Regions from separate parts of the Homo sapiens genome. Here all the other regions are linked to region 2. Evidence: fine-mapped expression QTL. A gene starts in region 2. Each other region holds a variant in brackets. All regions are shown on one strand. Distances are from middle to middle.

The links. PIP is the estimated chance that this variant, and not a neighbour inherited with it, causes the effect. A credible set is the group of variants that fine-mapping cannot tell apart.
Region 1: its variant is the best candidate, but not a certain one, in a credible set for the expression of MGST2 in whole blood (TOPMed, PIP 0.84).
Region 3: its variant is the best candidate, but not a certain one, in a credible set for the expression of MGST2 in whole blood (TOPMed, PIP 0.80).

What each region holds. Positions count from the first base shown.
Region 1 is chr4:139,690,431-139,693,192 of GRCh38, reverse strand. All of the region lies in intron 2 of MGST2 (microsomal glutathione S-transferase 2), which reads right to left. Among named protein-coding and RNA genes, the nearest start is that of MGST2, 26 kb to the right of the region's middle. RefSeq lists an enhancer at 542-591. The variant CTG/G (reference allele first, on the strand shown) is at 1,546.
Region 2 is chr4:139,664,718-139,667,479 of GRCh38, reverse strand. It overlaps MGST2 (microsomal glutathione S-transferase 2), which reads right to left and starts at 1,661. Exons shown (of 5, transcript NM_002413.5): 1 at 1,403-1,661. The coding sequence starts at 1,460. RefSeq lists enhancers at 1,437-1,606, 903-2,102.
Region 3 is chr4:139,871,318-139,874,079 of GRCh38, reverse strand. All of the region lies in intron 2 of MAML3 (mastermind like transcriptional coactivator 3), which reads left to right. Among named protein-coding and RNA genes, the nearest start is that of MGST2, 210 kb to the right of the region's middle. The variant T/C (reference allele first, on the strand shown) is at 1,167.

The DNA.
Region 1 (2,762 bases), 26 kb before region 2:
GCCCACCTCGGCCTCCCAAAGTGCTGGGATTACAGGCGTGAGCCACCGCGCCCAGCCCACTCACTGAAATTTTATATGAACTTTTTTGGAAACATAACACAATTGTCCCATCATTTATTGTTTTGTAATACACCTTAAATTATTCCAAATGTAAGCATCAAGTTTTTCCACAACATATCTTTATTCAAAATTAGGTGTGATAAGATTGTTTTAAAAGCACCTTCAAAAATAGCCCAGGTTAGCCTTCATAAAAGTCTAATTATTTAGAGGTTTTTCTAGTGGCCTTGGCTTGGCATCTGGGGACAAAGAGATAATATTGTGTAAGAATGTCCTAAGTCCAAACTGCACTGCAGAGGGCAGAAGCCCTTTGGGTGTCTGTCCACATAAATTGATAGGCATGTGTGCTTTTGTGTCTCTTATCTGAAAGAGGAAGAAGGCCTTTGAGCAAGGAGAAAGGAAATAAAAATAGAGGGGATGTTTTGGAGTTCCCCTGCTGCCCTCACAAGCTAGGGAACTAGTTTCACACCTAATGGGAAACCAGAGACCAGAACAGATGCTGACGGATCGTCCTCATGAAAAACTTGGTGAGATTCCAGATACAAGTGGTGCCATGCCTCAGATGACAGAAGAGACAAAGTCGGGGAGAGTCACACCCTTAATCTCCCTCTGCCACAGACCCAGAGCAGCTCCTGGTGGTGGTGGAAGGCACTCCAGAACCTGGGGAGGGTATTGTACTCACAGAGGACTGGGGAGCAGGACAGTGGCATAGCCCCTTGCTTCAGCTGCTTGCCAGCAGGAGCTGTGTCCCTGGGCACATCCCCTGTATTCCCAGAAGGAATTGGGAAGATGGGGAACCGGGGTGCTGGGATCCTGGGTGAGCAGCAGGTGGCTGGAAGCCACTGAGATTTAGGCAAGGATGTGATTGCAGCTGCGTTTGTGCTCACAGGATGGCAACACCTGGAGTACTGGAGCAGCTCAGCACCATATCTCTGTACCTTTCTTTCTCAAGAAATAGGCCCTTTGTCCCCTACAAGTGGCTGGTCACTGCTGAGCTCACCCCAACCTCACGTCCCAGCTGTGCTCATTGTACTTTCACCCTGGTCCCTCTTTTGCTGACCTGCCTCAAGCCTTAGTCCCTTGGAAATGAGACTTTGCCCATTTCTTGCTATCATCTCTCAGAGATTGAAAATAATTGCTGGGCGCAGTGGCTCATGCCTGTAATCCCAGCACTTTGGGAGGCCGAGGTGGGCAAATCACGAGGTCAGGAGATCGAGACCGTCCTGGCTAACACGGTGAAACCCCGTCTCTACTTAAAAAATATAAAAAATTAGCCGGGCGTGGTGGCGGGTGCCTGTAGTCCCAGTTACTCGGGAGACTAAGGCAGGAGAATGGTGTGAGCCCAGGAGGCGGAGCTTGCAGTGAGCCGAGATCACGCCACTGCACTCCAGCCTGGGTGACAGAGTGAGATTCCGTCTCAAATAATAATAATAATAATCATCATCATCATCATCATCATCATCATCATCTGACTGCCAGTGGGGTGCC[CTG/G]TTTGTTGCTGACAGTCTTCCCTGCTGCCTGCCTGGTGAAAGCACCAAGTATTGGTTTGGCCTTGAAATACCTGGAATCCCATTCTACCTGCTAATTGTCACCTCCTCCAGCCCCTCCACCATGTGACCATGTCCTTCTGCCTGATTCTGGGTCCCTCCAGGCCTGGATGGTGTCCCACAATAACACGTCCTCAGTAAGCTGTCAGCAGGCATGTTTAACTCAAGGGGACCAAACTCTGAAAATTACTTCTTGACAATCCTGTCAGTGGCTAATTACAGTTTCATTGACATGAAAATAATTTATAGCCTCTTTTAAGTCATGAAGGCAGATATATTCTATCCTCTTATTACAGGGGATCCTCAGGAAAATTTCCCAAATGGAACAGCAAACAGCCTGCAGTAGCTGTCAATCTTCCCTTCCTGTGAGAACAGGGGGTAGAGTTGATTATGACCACTGTCTCCTCTCTGCATGTCCATACTGGAAAAACAGGCTGTCCATGGGAAAACAGGCTGTGTATACTCATTCCCTGGCGAGAGCCCTCTTTGAACAATCCCCTGCTCCTTTGATATTGAAGCTTCCCATGAACGCTATCTTGGTTTGCCTGGGACTGAGGAATTTAGGGGGACATGGAGCTTTAAGTGCTAAAACTGGGTAAGACCCAGAAGAACTGGAAAGAGTCTGGTGGGCACTGTGGAGATTGAGTAGTTAAAGCTGCTGAGACCCCTTGTTGTTCATCCCAGTACCATGGAGCCTGGGCCCTGGGGGCTCAGGACTACTGCACATTCCCACCTGGATCTGGTAACCAGGAGCAGTAAGGATGGCCCAAACTAAGTGCTATTTGGGCCTTGTCTCAGTCAATAAGTATACTACAAAGTTTATGTTATTTGGGGGTGGGAAAAAGAATCAAACTGTGGCCTGGCAGCTCCAAATGTGGCAGTTCCTTCAACACTAGTCTCCAAACTTTTCTGATTGCATAGCTCTAACAGTTGCACAGCCCCATAAAAATATGCACACATCCTCCTGCAGCAGAGGAGGCCCACACCCAGGAGCTCCCACATAGGACCAGACTTGAGCAAGACATGAACTTCCACTGTGTTAAACCATGGAGAATCTGGGATTTATCCATTAGCACAGCTAATACATTCAACTGGAAAAGAATATCATATTCATTATAAAACAAACATCATAAAAATTAAAGGATGGGGGATCAGGAA
Region 2 (2,762 bases):
CCCTAACATTCTGGCCCCAGTTCACACAGCCCCCTGCACAAGCAGCAAACAGGGAGGATGAGCACCTCTGTCAGCTTTGGGACATCTGTGGACCTGCAGGCCTAGGATAAAGGCGCATGCAGGTTTGGTAGCACCTGTGAGTCAGGATGCTACCAACAGTGAGCCTTAGACCTGCTAAATTAGGTTTAGCCTAAAGCTGCCTTCTGACATATTTTAAGTTCAGCCTAAAGGTTTCTCCGTACATCGTGAACTATATGCTTCCGTTTTCTGGGAGTCGCTTTCCTTTTTCTGTCCATAAATCTTCTTCTACCACGTGGCAGCCCCAGAGTCTCTCTGAACCTATTCCGGTTCCCCATGCCCAACTGTGAATCGTTCTTTGCTCAATTAAACTCAGTTAAATGTAATTTGTCTAGGGTTTTCCTTTTAACAGATCTAAGTGCTTCTTTAATTAGAAACAAATATCCTGCTCTTCTCCACAACAGATTGTGTGAATCAAACCACAAAACGTGAGTCTGAAGGTTCAAGATCTTCATACAATCTCAAAACAGACTGGCTAGGCAAGACATTGAGCATGCACGGAGGCCTGGACTGGATCCTCAGCTGTGAGGCCTTCCTGCTTCTGGCTGTTTGTGTAACCTGAGCAGTCTACGGCTTGGCCCTATTTCCTGGTACAGGCATACTTGGAAATATAAAGAAATATGCATGCTTGGTAAGAAGTCTTGCACTCTTGCACTCGGACCCCTTTCCCCAGCTGACATTGTAGGTAAGATAATATGAATTGAGCAAATGTGACTCCCATGGAGTAAAAGCCCTCTATTTAACCAGGCAGTCGAGATATTGAATAATCCTAGTGGGAAGCTGTTTTAAAATTTAGAGCTAATTACTTAATCTAAAGCTAATATTTCTGAAGGAAGTTTTTTTCAATCTGATAATCATACCACCATAGGCAGTTTATTTAAGAAAACACATTAATTAAAACATCAACGTTCAAGAAATCACAACCAGGTTTAGAAGCAGGCACGTTTCCTTTGGAACACTTGTAATTAATATTCACACCACTTCCTGCAGGTTAGCAGGCTACTAACGCTCGTTTGAACGGGCTGTGGGTCGTAATCACAGATGATGCAGAATCGCTGAGCTCTGAGGCCCCACAGCGTTCCAGTTGGGAGAACTAATCTCTGGAATGTTCTCAGTCTCTGCTTGCCCCTGGGAAGGAGGGTAGCAGGCGGCATGGGTGACCCTGAGGCGACTGTGCTCTGAGGACCCAGAGCTACCTGCAAGGGCAAGTAGGAAACAAAACACCGGACCCATCTCCCTCCCTCCCTCTCTCTCCCGCAAGCCTTGTCACACACACACACACACGCACACACGCGCACACACACGAACTTCCCATGCCTCTTACTTTGCTGACAGGCCGAGAGAATAGAGACAGCAGCCAGCAGGATCGAGTTCCCGGCCATCTTTCTCACGGAACTATTTGTAGAGCGCACGGGAAGATAAATGGCGCTTCTTGACTTTGAATGCTGACCTTCCTTATCGGGTAAACAAAGTTGGGGACCGGGTGGGGGGAAAAGGCTGATTCAAGCGGCTGAATGACCTTTGCTCTGGAACAGAAGTCAGGAAGGCAGGCAGGTCTGGGGCTGCCGGTCACAGATCTTTATGGGGCTGGGAGTTGCTTCCGGCGTTTGTTTTAAGCCTCTCCCACGGCCAGCGGGCAGGGCTGTAGCTCACTGTGGGACCAGCCCTCCAGCCGCAGTGCCAGTTACACTATCTTCTCTGCCAATGCACAGACTCTCTGGATCCCTTTCATCCCCACGCCCTTCCCTCCTAGGGCCTTGCTGAGACCTTTCTCACCTCCTGTGGAAAAAGTGAGAAGGAACTACTTACTTAATCCTGTTGACATTTTAAATGCTAATTTAAGCCAGTTCTAATGTATTCACGCTCTGAATGGCCGATTTAGGATTTGAACCCAGTCTAGCAGATTACAACTGTGCCCTATCCCCTGCACCAGGCTGCCTCTCACTGTCACCTAGAGACTCTGATAATAATCATACTTTTTTTTTTTAAGACAGGGTCTTGATCTGTCACCCAGGCTGGAGTGTGTGGTGGCACGATCATAGCTCACTGCAGCCTCCAACTCTTGGGCTTAAGTAATCCTCCTGCCTCAGCCTCCCAAGTAGCTAGAACTACAGCCACAAGTCACTGTGCCCAGCCATTTTTAAAAAAATAAACCGGCCGGGCGCGATGGCTCACACTTGTAATCCCAGCACTTTAAGAGGCCAAGGAGGGTGAATCACGAGGTCAGGAGATCAAGACTATCCTGGCTAACACAGTAAAACCCCTTCTCTACTAAAAATACAAAAAATCAGCTGGGCATGGTGGCACGAACCTGTAGTCCCAGCTACGCAGGAGGCTGAGGCAGGAGAATCTGCTCTTTAGAGATGCAGATTCTGGCCTGGAAGGATGGCTCATGCCTGTAATCCCAACAGTTTGGGAGGCTGAAATGGGCAGATGGTTTGAGCTCAGGAGTTCGAGACCAGCCTGGGTAACATGGCAAAACCCCATCTCTTAAAGAAATACAAAAATTAGCAGGGCATGGTGGCACGTGCCTGTAGTCCCAGCTACTTAGGGGGCTGAGGCAAGGGGATTGCTTGAACCCAGGAGCCTGAGACTGCAGTGAGCCAAGGTCGTTCCACTGCACTTCAGCCTGGGTGACAAAGTGAGACCCTGTCTCAAACAAATAATAAAAATAAAGATGCAGC
Region 3 (2,762 bases), 210 kb before region 2:
CATTTTATAACATCTGATCCATTTACATATTAAATGCAGGTAAACACATATTCCAAAATAATGAAAAGACCTTTTAATAAAACTTAAAAACTTAACTCCAAAGTAAAGAAGAGCTCTATTGGAAAGATTACCATATTAGTTATCTATTGCTGTGTAACAACTTATGCTCAAAACATAGCCACTTCAAACAACAAACATTTATTATCTTACATGGTTTTCAAGGGAATGCAGGAGCAGCTTAGCTGGGTGGTTATGGCTCAGGCTCTTCCATAAGGCTACCGTGAAGCTGTCAAGTGGGCTGCAGTCATCTGAAGGCTTGACTGGGGCTGGAGACTCTACTTCATATGTGGCTCCCTCCCATGGCTGCTGACTGGAGGCCTCAGTTCCTCACCACATGGACCTCCCCACAGGGCTGCTTAAGTTTTCTCATGACATGGCAGCTGGCTTCCCCTGAGTCAGCTTCAAGAGAGACCAAGGAGGAAGCCACAGTTCATTTCATGACATACTATCGAAATCACACACCTTCGTTTCTTCATTGTTTCATTCATTAGAAGCAAAATAATTTAAGTCCAGCCACACTCCAGGAGAGAGGGATTAGGTTCTCCCTTCTGAAGGGAGTGTCAAGAATTTGTGAACATATTTGTGGACACCATAATGACCATGAATGGCTTTGGCATTTTATAACATGCTTAAGTGGTACTGGCTCAGGAAAGCTTAGGATGGGAAGAACTGAGCTGGCAAAGGTGAGCAGCTCCATTTTTGAGGATACATAGATCAGATGTGCTGGAGTGAGAGGAGGGATGAAATCATAGGCTCCAAACATACCAGAAATTTCTTTTCTTTCACTTAGCAGTCCTGGACCTGATATCAAAGCTGTGCCACATAGCAGAGAAGCAATACAACATTCTGTGGTCAAATGTGAAGCCTTGCTTTTATTTAAAGTAGGAAACAAAATATCTGCGTGATTATTTATTTATTTATTTATTTATTTATTTTTTGAGATGGAGTCTCACTCTGTCTCCCAGGCTGGAGTGCAGTGGCACAATCTCAGCTCACTGCAACGTCTACCTTCTGGGTTCAAGCAATTCTTCCTGCCTCAGTCTCCTGAGTAGCTGGGATTACAGGCGCCCACCACCATGCCCGGCTAATTTTTTTAATATTTTTAG[T/C]ATAGACGGGGTGTTGCCATGTTGGCCAGACTGGTCTCAAACTCCTGACCTTAGGTGATCTACCCACCTCAGCCTCCCAAAGTGCTGGGATTACAGGCATGAACCACTGTGCCCGGCCGTGTGATTATTTTTTTAACTCTAAACCCAACCTTGTTATTGATAGGATTTTTATTTCTGCCTTAAGAATTCTTTCCATCACCTTTTCATTTTAAGACACTTATCATTTCTATCCCTTCCTTTGTCCCCTGTGCTGTCCTTCCTTCTGAAGTTCTCACCCGGAAAGGCATTACATCTTTGATGCTGCAGTTCACTTCTGTGTGCACCCCTGAGTTCTTCCAGTACATCCTCCAGTTCCTCTGCTTTCCATTTCACAACCTGGTTACAGTTAGTCACACTGTAACTTCCTGTTACTGAGTATTTCAGGGGCCAAAGCTCTCTATGCCCTATGCTGTCCACTTAGTCATCTCTCTCCACATTTGTATTATTCACAGCAAGATGCATGCACACAAATCCTTTAAGTCCGTCAGGCTTTTCTTTCCATTTCCCATTCAAATATGAATCACCTAGCAACATTTATTGAAGACCAATTGCACATGAAGCTGTGTTCCCATTATTGTGAGCCTCACAAAGGAAGTAAAAGCCATGGTCCTTGCCATTAAGAAGTTTATCCTCTACTAAAAGCTGGATTAAAAAATTTTTTTTAAAATAATAACAGCATACAGATTCCCGTTTATATTCAATAGAGTGAAATGTTGTCCAAGTTACAATGATCAAATGCAAGGGTTATTTCTCTGTATACCTTTTAACTGAGAAAGCTAGCCATCTTTTGGATTAGGTAAATGCATGTGCCTTGATGAGAAATACTGCTACAAAAAATTAGTGCCTGCTGTTCACTTCCTAGTATTGTAAACACGTTTCACCCAATCTGGTGAAATTTCAAGGCATGTTTTTGAAACTAAAATAAATAAATAAAACATTTATTAATCCTCTGTAACAAAGATACACCCAATTAATGTAACAAGTAGTTACAACCGATAACTGAAGCATAAGCAAAAGGATAATTGTATTAGTGTCCTAGGGTTTTCTTCTTTTTAAAAAGACGTCAGCACTGTGCATTGTTTTACCTTATTTTTAATGGACTGTTGATCAGAAAGGGGAGTAGGGAAACTGGGTTGCGAAGGGTTAATAAGGAACAAAAAGTGCAACCTGAGGAAGACACAGCTCAGGGAGGAGGACCCAGGGGAGTGTGGAAGCCCCTCAAAGCTCATTAGAGAGATTCAGCTTGTGATACAAGAAGCAATGGGTAGTCATTGTAGGTTTCTGAAAAGAGGAGAGTACTATCTCGATCAAAGTGATTGGCAGGAGAGATGCTAGGAAACAGCATACCTGGAACAAAATAATTAGGACCTGACTGCGTGTGACCCTGGAAATAGGTCCAAAGAAAAAGCAAGAGATTGTGGAAGTGACTGTGGGCAGGGGTGGGGACAGGAAAGGAAGAAAGGCGTCAAATTTGACTTCCAAACCTCCATACTTAAAAAAAACTGAGGATGGCCATTGGTTCCTGGCAAAGTGAGAGCTGAATTGACCAAAAGTTGT